4 linked regions of the Homo sapiens genome follow. The protein of the gene in region 3 interacts with the protein of the main gene of each other region in a pairwise test. Each region holds a gene or a part of one and is shown on either strand. Other genes may lie near its edges.

The links. Proteins that work in one complex are often made in the same cells at the same time.
Region 1: the proteins of DRC4 (region 3) and NKAPD1 interact in binary tests that used the Homo sapiens proteins (3 or more experiments, as listed by UniProt).
Region 2: the proteins of DRC4 (region 3) and CCNG1 interact in binary tests that used the Homo sapiens proteins (3 or more experiments, as listed by UniProt).
Region 4: the proteins of DRC4 (region 3) and MAD1L1 interact in binary tests that used the Homo sapiens proteins (3 or more experiments, as listed by UniProt).

The regions. Positions count from the first base shown.
Region 1 is NC_000011.10:112,077,299-112,080,798, forward strand, and holds part of NKAPD1 (uncharacterized protein NKAPD1), read left to right. Parts: intron 1-916; coding exon 917-1,017; intron 1,018-3,110; coding exon 3,111-3,260; intron 3,261-3,500.
Region 2 is NC_000005.10:163,440,595-163,443,055, reverse strand, and holds part of CCNG1 (cyclin-G1), read right to left. Parts: intron 1,979-2,461; coding exon 1,725-1,978; intron 1,171-1,724; coding exon 1,092-1,170; intron 1,012-1,091; coding exon 913-1,011; intron 683-912; coding exon 491-682; coding exon of another isoform or gene 488-490; intron 1-487. UniProt on the Homo sapiens protein: May play a role in growth regulation. Is associated with G2/M phase arrest in response to DNA damage. May be an intermediate by which p53 mediates its role as an inhibitor of cellular proliferation.
Region 3 is NC_000016.10:90,039,680-90,042,569, reverse strand, and holds part of DRC4 (dynein regulatory complex subunit 4), read right to left. Parts: intron 2,810-2,890; exon of another isoform or gene 2,271-2,809; coding exon 2,061-2,270; intron 101-2,060; coding exon 35-100; intron 1-34. UniProt on the Homo sapiens protein: Component of the nexin-dynein regulatory complex (N-DRC), a key regulator of ciliary/flagellar motility which maintains the alignment and integrity of the distal axoneme and regulates microtubule sliding in motile axonemes.
Region 4 is NC_000007.14:2,222,946-2,226,445, forward strand, and holds part of MAD1L1 (mitotic spindle assembly checkpoint protein MAD1), read right to left. Parts: intron 2,606-3,500; coding exon 2,465-2,605; intron 1-2,464. UniProt on the Homo sapiens protein: Component of the spindle-assembly checkpoint that prevents the onset of anaphase until all chromosomes are properly aligned at the metaphase plate.

The DNA.
Region 1 (3,500 bases), on a different chromosome or scaffold from region 3:
AATTATGCAGGAAGACTTAGAAATAAAATGTGTTCTTTGGGTAATCACATTCTGCTTTTCAAGAAATTCCCTAGCAGCCATACTGATTATTTTATTTTATTTTATTTTTGACAAAAATTATAATATTACCAGAAGAGATTTAGCTTAGGGAGTTTAAAGACCTGTCCTTACTAGTTTTTTGACTTTGTTAAAATCTCTGAGCTTTTGTTTCTTTACAGTAAAATGTAATAATGGTAGCTGCTATATTTTCCTCATGAGATTGCTTAAGGTTCAATTGAGATGATATAATTAAAATCATATTGCATTTTGGAAATGTGGCATTATCATTTGCTAATCGCAGCATAATTGCAAGATTGATAAGGTGATGTTTGTCTGTGCAGCGGTTTAAAAATTCTATTGGGGAAGATTTCCACATATTTGAGATTTACTGGATTGGACTGTTCAGCCACTTTCTAGAGAAACCAATTTGTTTTCCAGGTTCCTGATCATAGCCCAGTCTGTAGCCCAATAATTAGTCAGATTGTATTTTCAGTTAGTTGCTTTTTTTTTTTTTTCTTTTTTTGTTGATACAGAGTCTCACTCCATCGCCCAGGCTGGAGTGCAGTGGTGCAATCTCGGCTCACTGCAACCTCTGCCTCCAGGGTTCAAGCGATTCTCCTGCCTCAGCCTCCTGAGTAGCTGGGATTACAGGTGCATGCTACCACGCCCGGCTAATTTTTGTATTTTTATTAGAGACGGGGTTTCACCATGTTGGTCAGGCTGGTGTCAAACTCTTGACCTCATGATCTGCCTGCTTTGGCCTCCCAAAGTGCTGGGATTACAGGTGTGAGCCACTGTGCCCGGCCAGTTAGTTACTTTTCTGTAATGTAAAGTTATTTTTAGTAACTTATTTTTATTTCCTTTTTAAAAATTCTAGATTCAGGAGGAATCAGATATGTGGAAAATAAGAGAACTGGAAAAACAGATGGAAGATGCTTACCGGGGGACCAAAAGGAAAATGCTACCCAGCAGTTCAAGGTGAAGTTGCAGCTCTGAGAACTAAAATAATTCTCATCTTTTTCAGAATCATCAACTTTTGTTTAAAAATACTTTGGTATATTAAGGATAAATTCAGTTCTGTGAGTCCTTAAGCCTTCCTTCTTTCGTAAATCTAGACCCAGGCATAAAGATAATGGCTGTGACGCATATGGCCCTGCTCTTTGTACTTATTTACAATGGAGAGTTAAAAAATTCTACCTGAACAATTATGAATGTGTAGGGTTCTGTGGATTCTAACCTTACCTGATAGCTTTTAACTGAAGATTTTATACTGGAATCTTGTGGTCACTAAGCTGATCAGTCATTCTATTCTCTATTAATCTTTCATTCTTTCAGGCTTTTCTTTTTGTAGCTGGAACTGCAGGTGCATGCCACTATGCCTAGCTACTTTTTTTTTGTAGAGGTGGTGTCTTGCTGTGTTCCCCAGGCTGGTATAGAATCCTGGGCTCACGCAGTCCTCCCACCTCAACCTCCCAGTGTTGGGATTATAAGCATGAGCCACTTGCCTGGCCTCAGACTTTTCTTCACCCTGTCTATTCACCCTCTTCACCAGATCAACAGCCTTTTCACATTACCTTAATAGCTTGAGTGTAAATATGAAGGATTATGCAGGCTTAGTTATCTTCCTTGTGGAGAGGCCTAGGAATGCTTGAATAATTGGGAAGATCCTTACACGCTTGTAAGTGTAAGAGCTACATATATAAGAAATACTTAAACTCTTTAGGAGCAGGGCTTGTGATTTTCTCATTTGCTGCTATATTCCTGCCAGCTAGACCAGTACCTGGTACATAGGAGGCCCTTACAATTTTTTTTTTTTTTTTTTTTTGAGATGGAGTTTCGCTTTTGTTACCCAGGCTGGAGTGCAATGGTGTGGTCTTGGCTCACTGCAACCTCCGCCTCCTGGATTCAGCCAATTCTTCTGCCTCAGCCTCCCAATCAGCTGGGATTACAGGCACCTGCCACCACGCCTGGCTAATTTTTGTATTTTTAGTAGAGACAGGGTTTCACCATGTTGGCCAGGCTGGTCTTGAACTCCTGAGCTCAAAGTGATCCACCCACCTCGGCCTCCCAAAGTGCTGGGATTACAGGCGTGAGCCACTGGACCTGGCCCCTTAAAAATTTTTGATAACCGATTAGCAGCTTACTGGCTAGTTAGTAGAAATGGTAAACAGAAGCTGGATCAGTGGTTCTCAACTTTTTTCCTACTCCAGTATTCCCATGGGTTAGACCTTGTTCCCACTGTTATTGGGACCTCTCTATAGTAAGTTGCTGGTTTGCACAGAGGGAAGTGTATTTCAGAATCTCTAGGGTAGTTTGAAGTGTCCCTTGCTATGATTATGTTCTGCTTCCCTCTTTGCATGCCCTCCTAGTTGAGAATCAGCGAGTGAACTATCACATGACATAGTCCAGAGTTGATTTCATCTCTCTATGCTTTGCAATAGGATGGGTACTAATGGTCAGATTTTTTTCTTTTTTTCTTTTTTTTTTTTCCTGAGACGGAGTCTCACTCTGTTGCCCAGGCTGGAGTACAATGGCATGATCTGGGCTCACTGCAACCTCTGCCTCCCCGGGTTCAGGCAATTTTCCTGCCTCAGCCTTCCAAGTAGCTGGGACTATAGGCGTGTGCCACCACACCTAACTACTTTTTTTGTATTTTTAGCAGAGACAGGGTTTCACCATGTCCCCCAGGCTGGTCTTGAACTCCTGACCCCAAGTGATCCACTCGCCCCGGCCTCCCAAAGTGCTGGGATTACAGGCATGAGCCACTGCACCTGGCCTGGTCAGATTTTTTTCCACTGGACTTTACAAATGTACAGAGGAACAGATAATCAAAGTGCTGGGATTACAGGCATGAGCTACTGCACTAGGCCTGGTCAGATTTCTTCCACTGGACTTCACAAATGTATAGAGAGGAGCAGATAATGTCTTTGCCTTTTTTTTTTTTTTTTTTAAACAGTATCATGTTGTTTCCTTCCCCCTCAGCTTGTTCCATGAGTTTTGTGCATGATGTTCCATAAAGTAAACTCACAGATTGCTTTTACATCTAAAAGTTCTTCTGCTTTCTCTTTTAGCCGGATGCGCAGTGATGGTTTTGATGAAGAAAGTCAAAGATACTATTGGAGGCCAAAGAATGAAATTTCTGGGACACTGGAAGATGATTTTCTTAAGGCTAAATCCTGGAATAAAAAGTTCTATGATTATGAAGCAAACATGCCAGACAGGTTTGTGATTAATTCCTGTGAGCATTAATATTTGGCCTGAGAACGTGTACTTATCAAAATTAATTGTCCCCACAAAAAACTTGTGTACAAAAGTTCATACCAGCATTATTAATAATGGCCCCAAAAAATAATGGCCAAGTAATCCAAATGTCTGTCAACTGATGAATGGGTAAACAAAATGCGATATATCCATACAATGGAATATTATTTGGCAGTAAAAGAAATGAAGTACAGATACAT
Region 2 (2,461 bases), on a different chromosome or scaffold from region 3:
TTACAGGCGTGAGCCACTGCATCCGGCCTACTTTTTTTTCTTTTAAGTACAATATCCAAGTTCATATTGATTTTGCTTATAAGCTAACAGTCTCAAATTAGTTCATACTTGGTTCAGACTTTTGGTGCTGTTGTCCTGCTCAGCTTATGTAATTTTAAATCAGTCAGATACATACAGCAAGATCATGTGCAATTAAAAAAAAGCATGATTTTAGTGCTACAAGGAGGATGCTGTTCTCTAAGCTGAAAATTTAATGAAATGGCTAACGTATGTATCAGAGGTTGGATAATTCCTTACTCCTAAGATGTTGTACCTTGTATATAGTAAAGGCCTTCAAATATTAGCTGACTAGATCAGTGATGTCATCTCCCCCTTTACTATTCCAACTCCATTTTGTTTATTTTGAAGATAATTACTCTTCTTTAGTTGAAAATTATGGCATTGGAAAATGTTCTCTATCTGGAGAATAATAACGGACCAAATTTACCAGTTAAGGGACCATTTCAGGAATTGTTGGAAGGTGAGTTATTCTGTAGTAGCTATGCTTCAATTGCCGTGCAGTACGCCCAGAAACAATCCATTTCAACTTCTGAACATTTGGTTTGGAACACTTATTTGATGAATATTCAGTTAAACATTTGGATACAAGCTCTTGCCAGAAGGTCAGATCTCTGCCATTTATCTGTACATACATAAATTTTAAAAAATTATTACTCCAAGTAAGTCCCACCTTATTTAACTACATTAATAAATGCAATCCTATGAACATGTGTCTTTGCTCATTAAAAACATTTGAGGATAGCTACTTAAGTTTCAAATAAACATATGACATCTCATTTTACTTCAGGAGATAGAAGGGGTTTAGTTTCTTTTACAGCTGTTAATAGGATTTAGGCTATGTCCTTCACATACCTTGGAATGTTTCTGAAGACATTCTATTCCTTCTGTTAACTCTACACACTTCTGTGCTTGGATCTCTAATGCAATGATAGACAATGCCAACACAGAAGGCTAAAAGAGATAAATTTAAAGTAAATGCCAAATATAAAAACAGATCATATCAATAGGCATAATCTTTATAAAATATTTACCTTTGCTTTAGAAAATATGATCCTGCAATGACATGCCTTCAGTTGAGCTTCTAGTCTTTCAAAATTAATGCTATTTCTCCTTTAAAAAGAAAATGGTATTACTTTTATTAGGTAATACTACATCTAGTCAAAAGATGTTTTTAGAAAAACATTGAAGTCAATTTTTAAAGTAAAGCTTATGCACACTTAACATAGCAAATGAACTATTGAAAGGAATTCCCCTTCCATCAGAGATACTAACTTCTAAAGGCACCATATGGGAGTTTTAGATGATTTGGGCCAAAAAATTAAAATGAATAGTACTATGCCACAAATACAAGATTTATTTTCTTTTAGTTTTAATAAATATTTCAACATCCACTGAAGGTCCTTTTTTTCCATAAATTTGTGTTAGATGCTTTCCTACTAGGTTCTATAAAGTCAAAATGTACTTTAATCCCAAGAATTAGCTTTAACGAAGCTATTGACAATGGAACATTTTCTCACTTATGATGGACATTAAAGTTCAAGGAGCCACAGCTGTCATTTTACTTATTTTTATTAGAATTCTATGAGGATACTGATTTTATGCAATATCCATACAATACCATTCTGATTTCCAAATGTCTCTTGTTCAAAACAAAGGTCACTTACCTTTCAAGTGGCAAGTTCTCTTGAAGGAGTGAATAATACAGTTGCAGAAATTGAAAGGCAGTAGTAGCTTTGACTTTCCAACACACCTTCTCCAATACAATCTTTTCCATTCTCATCAAGTCTGAAACCGTAAACCTATATTGACTTATTCGGATCAAGTCAGTTGCCAATGGGACATTCCTTTCCTCTTCTATTGATTTTACAGCCAAATAAAAGCAGCTCAGTCCAACACACCCAAGGTGCTTGGGCTGTACCTAAAAAATCAAAAACAAAACCAGTAAGCCCATGACTCTACCTTATTTCAATTAAAACATAAAGGATAATCTAGAACTCCGACCCAACATTTTGAAAATGTATATTTGAGGTTTATTTCTCAGCTGTGATGGACTTAACACAATCCACTCATACCTAAACTATAGCCTGTCAACACTATGGACCCCACTTAGAACCAATTTTTGAGTAACTGGACTGAGTTTCAGTATAATGTTTGGCTCAGCATAGAAAAAGTGTGTTTTTATTAATCACTGTAGAACTATAAGTAAACATTGTTCTAGTTTGATCAAATAAGTTAACTAGTCAAAGATATATGAGGACTGAAATACTTTATGGCTTATTTACAAAATAAGCCATTTCTTTGCAGGATGTTGTATTTTTTCCAGGCTCTTGTCTTTGTGGGAACACATATAAAACAGTTTTAAAATACTATGGCATATACTGTTTACTCTGCCTCTAAGAGT
Region 3 (2,890 bases):
GGTGCCCCTGAGGGAGGGCAGGGCACAGCCGTACCTTACAGACCTGGGCCAGCTCATACTGCAGGTCCTTGATGGTGCTGTTCTTCGACTCAAGAACATCCTGAGGAGAGAGAGGTGATGGGAGTTTGAGACTCATCTTTTGGCCGAGGCAACGGGAGCGGCCTGGGGACTCCAGTGGGCGTTCTGAGAGATCCAGCGAATAGCAGCCTGGTTTGATGGATGCATCCATCCACACAGGGTTGTCAGCAGAAAAAGGTCTCCAAGGGTGGAGAGAAAACAAGGAAGAAGCAGAGAACTGGGAGCTTGCACAACCTGCCTCTCCAGCAACAGTCCAGGCCAGGCACTGCCGCTCACACCTGTGATCCCAGCAGTGTGGGAGGCCAAGGAGGGCAGATCACTTGAGGTCAGGAGTTTGAGACCAGCCTGGCCAACGTGGCGAAACCCCGTCTCTACTATACGAAAAGTAGCCGGGCACGGTGGCTCACACCTGTGTAATCCCAGCTACTCAGGAGGCTGAGGCATGAGAATTGCTTGAACCTGGGAAACGGAGGTTGCAGTGCGCCGAGATTGAGCCACTGCACTCCAGTCTGGGTGACAGAGCAAGACACCGTCTCAAGAAAAAACTCAAAGAGCAGTCCAGACCACAAGAAATGCAGATGAGGTGAGGGCAGGCAGCGTGCAGCCACACTGTGGAGACTGGTCACTAAACACCACCTACATATTGCTTAAATTTCTTGAGGCTTGTGAATGTACTATCTCACTTTTTTTTCTGAGATGGAGTCTCGCCCCGTTGCCCAGGCTGGAGTGCAGTGGCGCGATCTAGGCTCACCGCAACCTCCGCCTCCCAGGTGCCAGGAATTCTCTGCCTCAGCCTCCCAAATAGCTGGGATTACACCCGCCACCAAGCCCAGCTAATTTTTGTATTTTTAGTAGAGACGGGGTTTCACCATCTTGGCCAGGCTGGTCTTGAACTCCCAAACTCGTGATCTGCCCACCTCAGCCTCCCAAAGTGCTGGGATTACAGGCGTGAGCCACCGCGCCCGGCTATCCCACTTTTTTGTAACAGAAAAAAGTAGTCTTCAGCAGCGCTGGCCCCGCCCAGATGTGGGCAAGGGTCTCACCACGTGGCGAGGCAGGGACTTCTTGGGCTCCTGCCTGTGGGGCACTGCTGGGCCCAGCCTGGCTTTAGAGCCGTCCCTGCTGCCCACTGACACAGCAGCCCCCTCACACCTGGCCAGCAGCAAACAGTGTCCCTGCGGGGGCCTCTGTCATTTCCCCAGAAGATTCCTCACTTAGAAGTCGAGGTAACAATGACCAGGAAAGGAGGGGTTGACCCACATTTAGCTCCATCCTCCATCCTCACCCTGGCGCGTGGGCGCAGCTGCAATGACCCTCACAGGCCACGACTGCTCTCTTCACCCTCATTTCGGTGGCTTAGCAGCAGGCTGGGTGCAGCCCTCAGCCAGGAGCTGGAAACACGCCTCCCCCACCTCCCAACAGTGGGACCCTCACTCCCTCACCTGCCTGTGCTCACTGGGCCCAGTGCTGAGCAAACAAAGATGAGTTTTCAGTCCCGGGGCCACAGTGCCTCTGGCCCAGGTGAGGCCCCTCCTATACAGCCTCACTACCTCAGGCCCTGAGAGCCAGGCCATCCCAGATGACCAGGGTCCCACAGGCACCACCGCCCACTGGGCCGGGACCCGTCGTTCCCCCATGTGCAAACACCAAGTCACCTCGGCCCCTCCCAGCCCCACCTGTGGACTCAGCCTCCTGGCGGCTCTCCAACCCTCTGCCCGTCCCCATTCTGTGCTGGCCCCAACCAGCCCCCTCCAGCCCTGTGCTCCCCATCAATAGCAGAGTGGGCCCTGATCTGGTTCCCCTGCCCAGCCCTTCCACAGTTCCCAACTGGCCCGAAACTGGCCACAGGAAACCCATGAATGCCCCTCCTCAGTGGCCGACCGAGGGGTCTCTGTGCCTATCCGAGGAGCAGCACAGAACTGAAGACTCTTGCCACAGGGATGAGGCCGCCCACTGGGGTCAGGAGCCTGTCTAGGGCCTACCTCCAGCTTGCGGGACACCAGCGTCAGGGCTGCAGGGTCCAGGTTAGAGGCAGCCAGGACCTCGTTGAACTGCACCTCCTTCTTCTCCACAGCGGCGCTCAGAGCCTGCAGCTTGCGTTCTAGCACGAGGTTCTTGAACCCTGTCTTCTGCTGCACCTCCTGGATGGCTGCGGTGAACTTCCGATAGAGCTCGTCCCGCTCCTGCTGCACCTGTAGGGACAGCGCTGGGGGTGGGCGATGAGGCCCCTCACCTGGGGACATCTCGCTGGGAAGATGCTGCCTCCCACCTCTGCACCTGCCTGGAACACGCTGCCTCCCAACAGTGCCCACTCCCACAGCACCGGGGTCAGTGTGTTGTCCACACTGCCTGCGCCCTGGCCCTTTGTAGAGCCATCCACGCAGTGGAAGGCAGGAGGAACACATCAGCATAAGCCCTTCTCTCAGGAAGGTGTCTCTGGAAGCCATAAGTGTCCTGGTAAGAGCTGAAGCAGCCCCACCCTGAAAGCTGCTTCATGGGTGGCCGAGGCCAGTCTTGCCCGAGTGAGGGCTGTGGGCTCAGGTGAGATTTGAGATCCAGGGCATCCAGCAGGCCGAGCTTGCAGGTGGGGCCCCTTGGAGGATATGCTCCCTTGGCCAGCCCCAGATCCTGGCATCACATGTGCTGTCCGCCCCACAAATGGTGGATCTGGAGCACGGCCTTGGAGCCAGCTACCTGCCAGCCAGTAAAACTGTTCTTTTTTATCTCCTAATTCTTCTACTTATTAATTGTGCATTCTAAAAAAATCTAGACTTTGTTGAAGACTATAAAAAAGTGAACACCCTGAGCAGCG
Region 4 (3,500 bases), on a different chromosome or scaffold from region 3:
ACCATGACGGTGAGCACTGTGCGAGGTCAGGGCTCCCAGGAAGGGCACTTGGCACAGATCACACACACATTTATCACACCGTCTGCTCAGCAGTTGCCTCTGCAGGGAGAGGGGGCATGGGAAATCTAAAATTCAGCATTGACCTTGGGGAGAAGCTGAGCTTTCATAGCACCAGCAAATCCTGTCTAATTACGCTCTGTCCGGCACTGAAAGGAGCTGGCACTCCCCCAGCGAGCAGACAACAGGGGCAGAGACAGGCAGCGTGGACAGGAGGCTGTGGGCAGAAGCAGTTTACACTGGGCTCAAATCTGCCACACATGCACCCCCTCTCACACAAACCACAAACCTCCAGACCCACCCCCCACGACTGGCCTTAGGGAGGCCGCGTGGCTCTCACTGGTTGGGATGGGACATGACCAAGCACCACGCTCAGACCTCCTGACTCTAATGACCCGCAGGCCCTCCAGAGTTCACTGCCAGGTACCGGCGTCCCAGGAGGTGAAGGCGGTGAGTCCTGGTGGAGCCCGGCACTCCGGGACCCTCTCACCCTGCCTTCCTCGGGAAGCACCAAGCACTCCCGGAGCCCCGGGTGGAGTACGAGCTTGTGCTGTCCTCATCCAGGGTACTCCAGCCCAAAACCCAGGAGAGCTGTGACAGAGGTGGCCGCCTTCTGAGAGAGGCTGACCCGCGCACCTCGGAGGGACTCCAGCCCTTGTGAGCTGCAAGGGCTGCCTCACAACAACCAAGAGACCCTTCTGTGATGCAGGACAAGAACTGGGGTTGGCACGGGGCTCCGCTCAGCACCATCACAGCCAGATGCGGCACCGGGCCTGGAACTGCCAGTCCCAGCGCAGACAGGGCAGCCAGCAGGTCTTTGGACTTCAGACACTTAAGTCTCGCCCCTAATAGGTATTTCCAGGTGGAACTCCAAGGAACAATTGGAAAACTACTGGTTCTGACTGTTCCTGGGGTCCCATGCAGCTGTGTCTGCGGGCAAGGAAGGACAGTCCTGTTAGAAGGTGGCTGGAGCTCAGCAGGGAGCCCCAGGTGTAAGCCCAGTCACCTGCATCCTTGGATTTCCCCAAGACAGGGTTCCCGGAGACCCTACAATGACCCCTCCCTCAATCCAACATTTGTGAGCACCCATAAAATGCCATAAGCTGTGCCACACAATGGAGATCCTGGGCAGAGTCGGGTGGGCCCTGCCCTCAGGGACTCTCGGCCTAGAGGAACTCCAACAGCTGCACACTGTCCCTCCTGCCTGACAGCCACAGCCATACCATCAGCATGCTGCCTCCAGACCAATGACCTGGTGGCTCCTCTCCACCCCTAACAAGGGAATCTCAGTAGTTAGGGAGACTCCTGTGGACTCTCCCTCCCCTTCCCACCAATTCCTCCAGTACTGTCCCTCCTAGGACCCACCCAGGCCATGAGCAAACGCCCCACCTCTCAGGGAAAACAGCTCTCAAAGCAGCAACGGAGCCAACCCTGAGGCAGTGGCCCCCACCCCAGCGGTGCCTCAGTCTCACTGAGCCCACACAACGCACACCGCAGTCAGGATCTGCAGGCCAGGGGCAAGCAATCCAACCAGCATCACACCCCGGAAGACGTGAGCTATTTTTCTAGGGCCCAGGAGAGTGTGTGAATACACCGCATGATGTCAGGGCGGGGCTGGACATCCACCCGCCAAGAGAGGGCACGGAGGCCAGGGAGACTTTCCGCCCAATACTCTGCCTGAACCTTGGCAGCATTTCCACAACTGATCAGCACTGACTGAAACCCTGGCAAAGTGCTGTTAATCAGAGCAGAGGGGATCCGCGCACTCAGTGGAAACCTAATTCCCTCCCCAAGGACAGGGTGTTTTCCCTGCTGCCCTGGGGAGCCAGGAGCAACACAGAGCCGCCATTGAGACCGGCACCCTTTGCTAGGGCCCTCCAACCCCAAGACCCAGCATGGACCCGAGACCCTGATCCACCCCATGACCTCCTAAGCCTGTCACTCCTACACCACTTGGCATTTCTGCCAGACCTGCATTCCAATTCTTCCAGAGGGAAGAGGAAACCAGGAGACCCAGCAAAAGAATCTGTGCCAGCACCGCAGCCTCAATGAACAGACACAGCAAGTGTTCCCATTTCATGCCACCCTCCTCTAGGACATCAAGCATAACTGATACCTGCCCCACAGCATGAGTGGCCTCAGAAGGAATGTCCTGGCAACCATGACACAGGGCGTGTCAGGCTTCCAGCCAGCTGGGTTCTCATTTCCTACGGCCTGGCAGGTACCGTGCACAGCCCCCTTGCTCCCAGGGACTGGGATCTGATTTCTTAAGACCTGGCAGGTACCATGCACAGCCCCCTTGCTCCCAGGGACTAGGATGTGATTTCTTATAACCTGGCAGGTACCGTGCACAGCCCCCTTGCTTCCTGGGGCTGTCTGGGCCGACCCTCGCCCCGCCTGAACCCACCTCGTAGTTCCTGGCACTGGTGCTGGCTGCTCTCTCCAGCTCCACTCGAGCCCTCTTGTGACTCAGCTCCATCTGCATTTTCTCCCGCTCCACCTGGATGAGGTGGGACTTCGAACGGATCTGCTCTGCTCTTTCCTCCAGCTGAGCAGGTCGCACCCAAAGAAAAACAGAATCCTCAGTGACGGCATCAAACCAGGTGAGTGACTCAGTGCAGCAGACACACTCCCTGAGGACCCATTCCCGCAGGTCCCGTGCTAAGTCTTGATGTGGCCCAGCCACTGGGCTCCAGGCTGGGGAACAGGGGAGGGGCAGGAAACGGGAAGGTGAAAAAGCCTGGGAAGAGGAAGACGTCTTTTGAGATGACATTAAGCATATTAGTGAAGGCAACGGCCTCGAATGCCACCCATTTATTTACCAGCCAACGGCTCCGTGGGTCGGAAGTCCAGACGTAGGTGGCTGCATTCTCTGACCAGGGTCTCCCAGACTAAAAATCAATGCAGTCGGCCAGGACATGTTCTCACGTGGAGCTCAGAGATGGAGAATGAGGTCTCCTTCCCGACTGGCTGCCAGCCCAGTACAGCCATCAACTCCTAGGTGCTGCCCACATCCCTTGCCACACGGCCCTCTCCATCTCCAAAGTCAACCACGTCCAATCTCCCTCATCAAATCCCTCTCCTGCTATGTCTCTTGACTGCTCGGCCTCGGACGTCTGGACTCAGACTTAAAGGGCTCAGGTGAGTACATCAAGCCCACCAGGGAGTGGATCAAGCCCACCCACGTAATCTCCCTATCTCAAGGTCAACAGATCTTAGACCTTAATTACATCTGCACAATCCCACAGCAATGAAACCTACTCAGTATTGGACTGAAACCTGGGAGGCAGTAGGAAGGTGAGTGTGCACAAGGAGCCTGGAATCTGGGGGCCCTCTCAGAAGCCTGCCTACCACACAGGGTTAGTGATTACAGGTGAGCTGAGCCTCTGGGGGCCCTCTCAGAAGTCTGCCTGCCACACAGGACTAGTGATTACAGGTGAGCT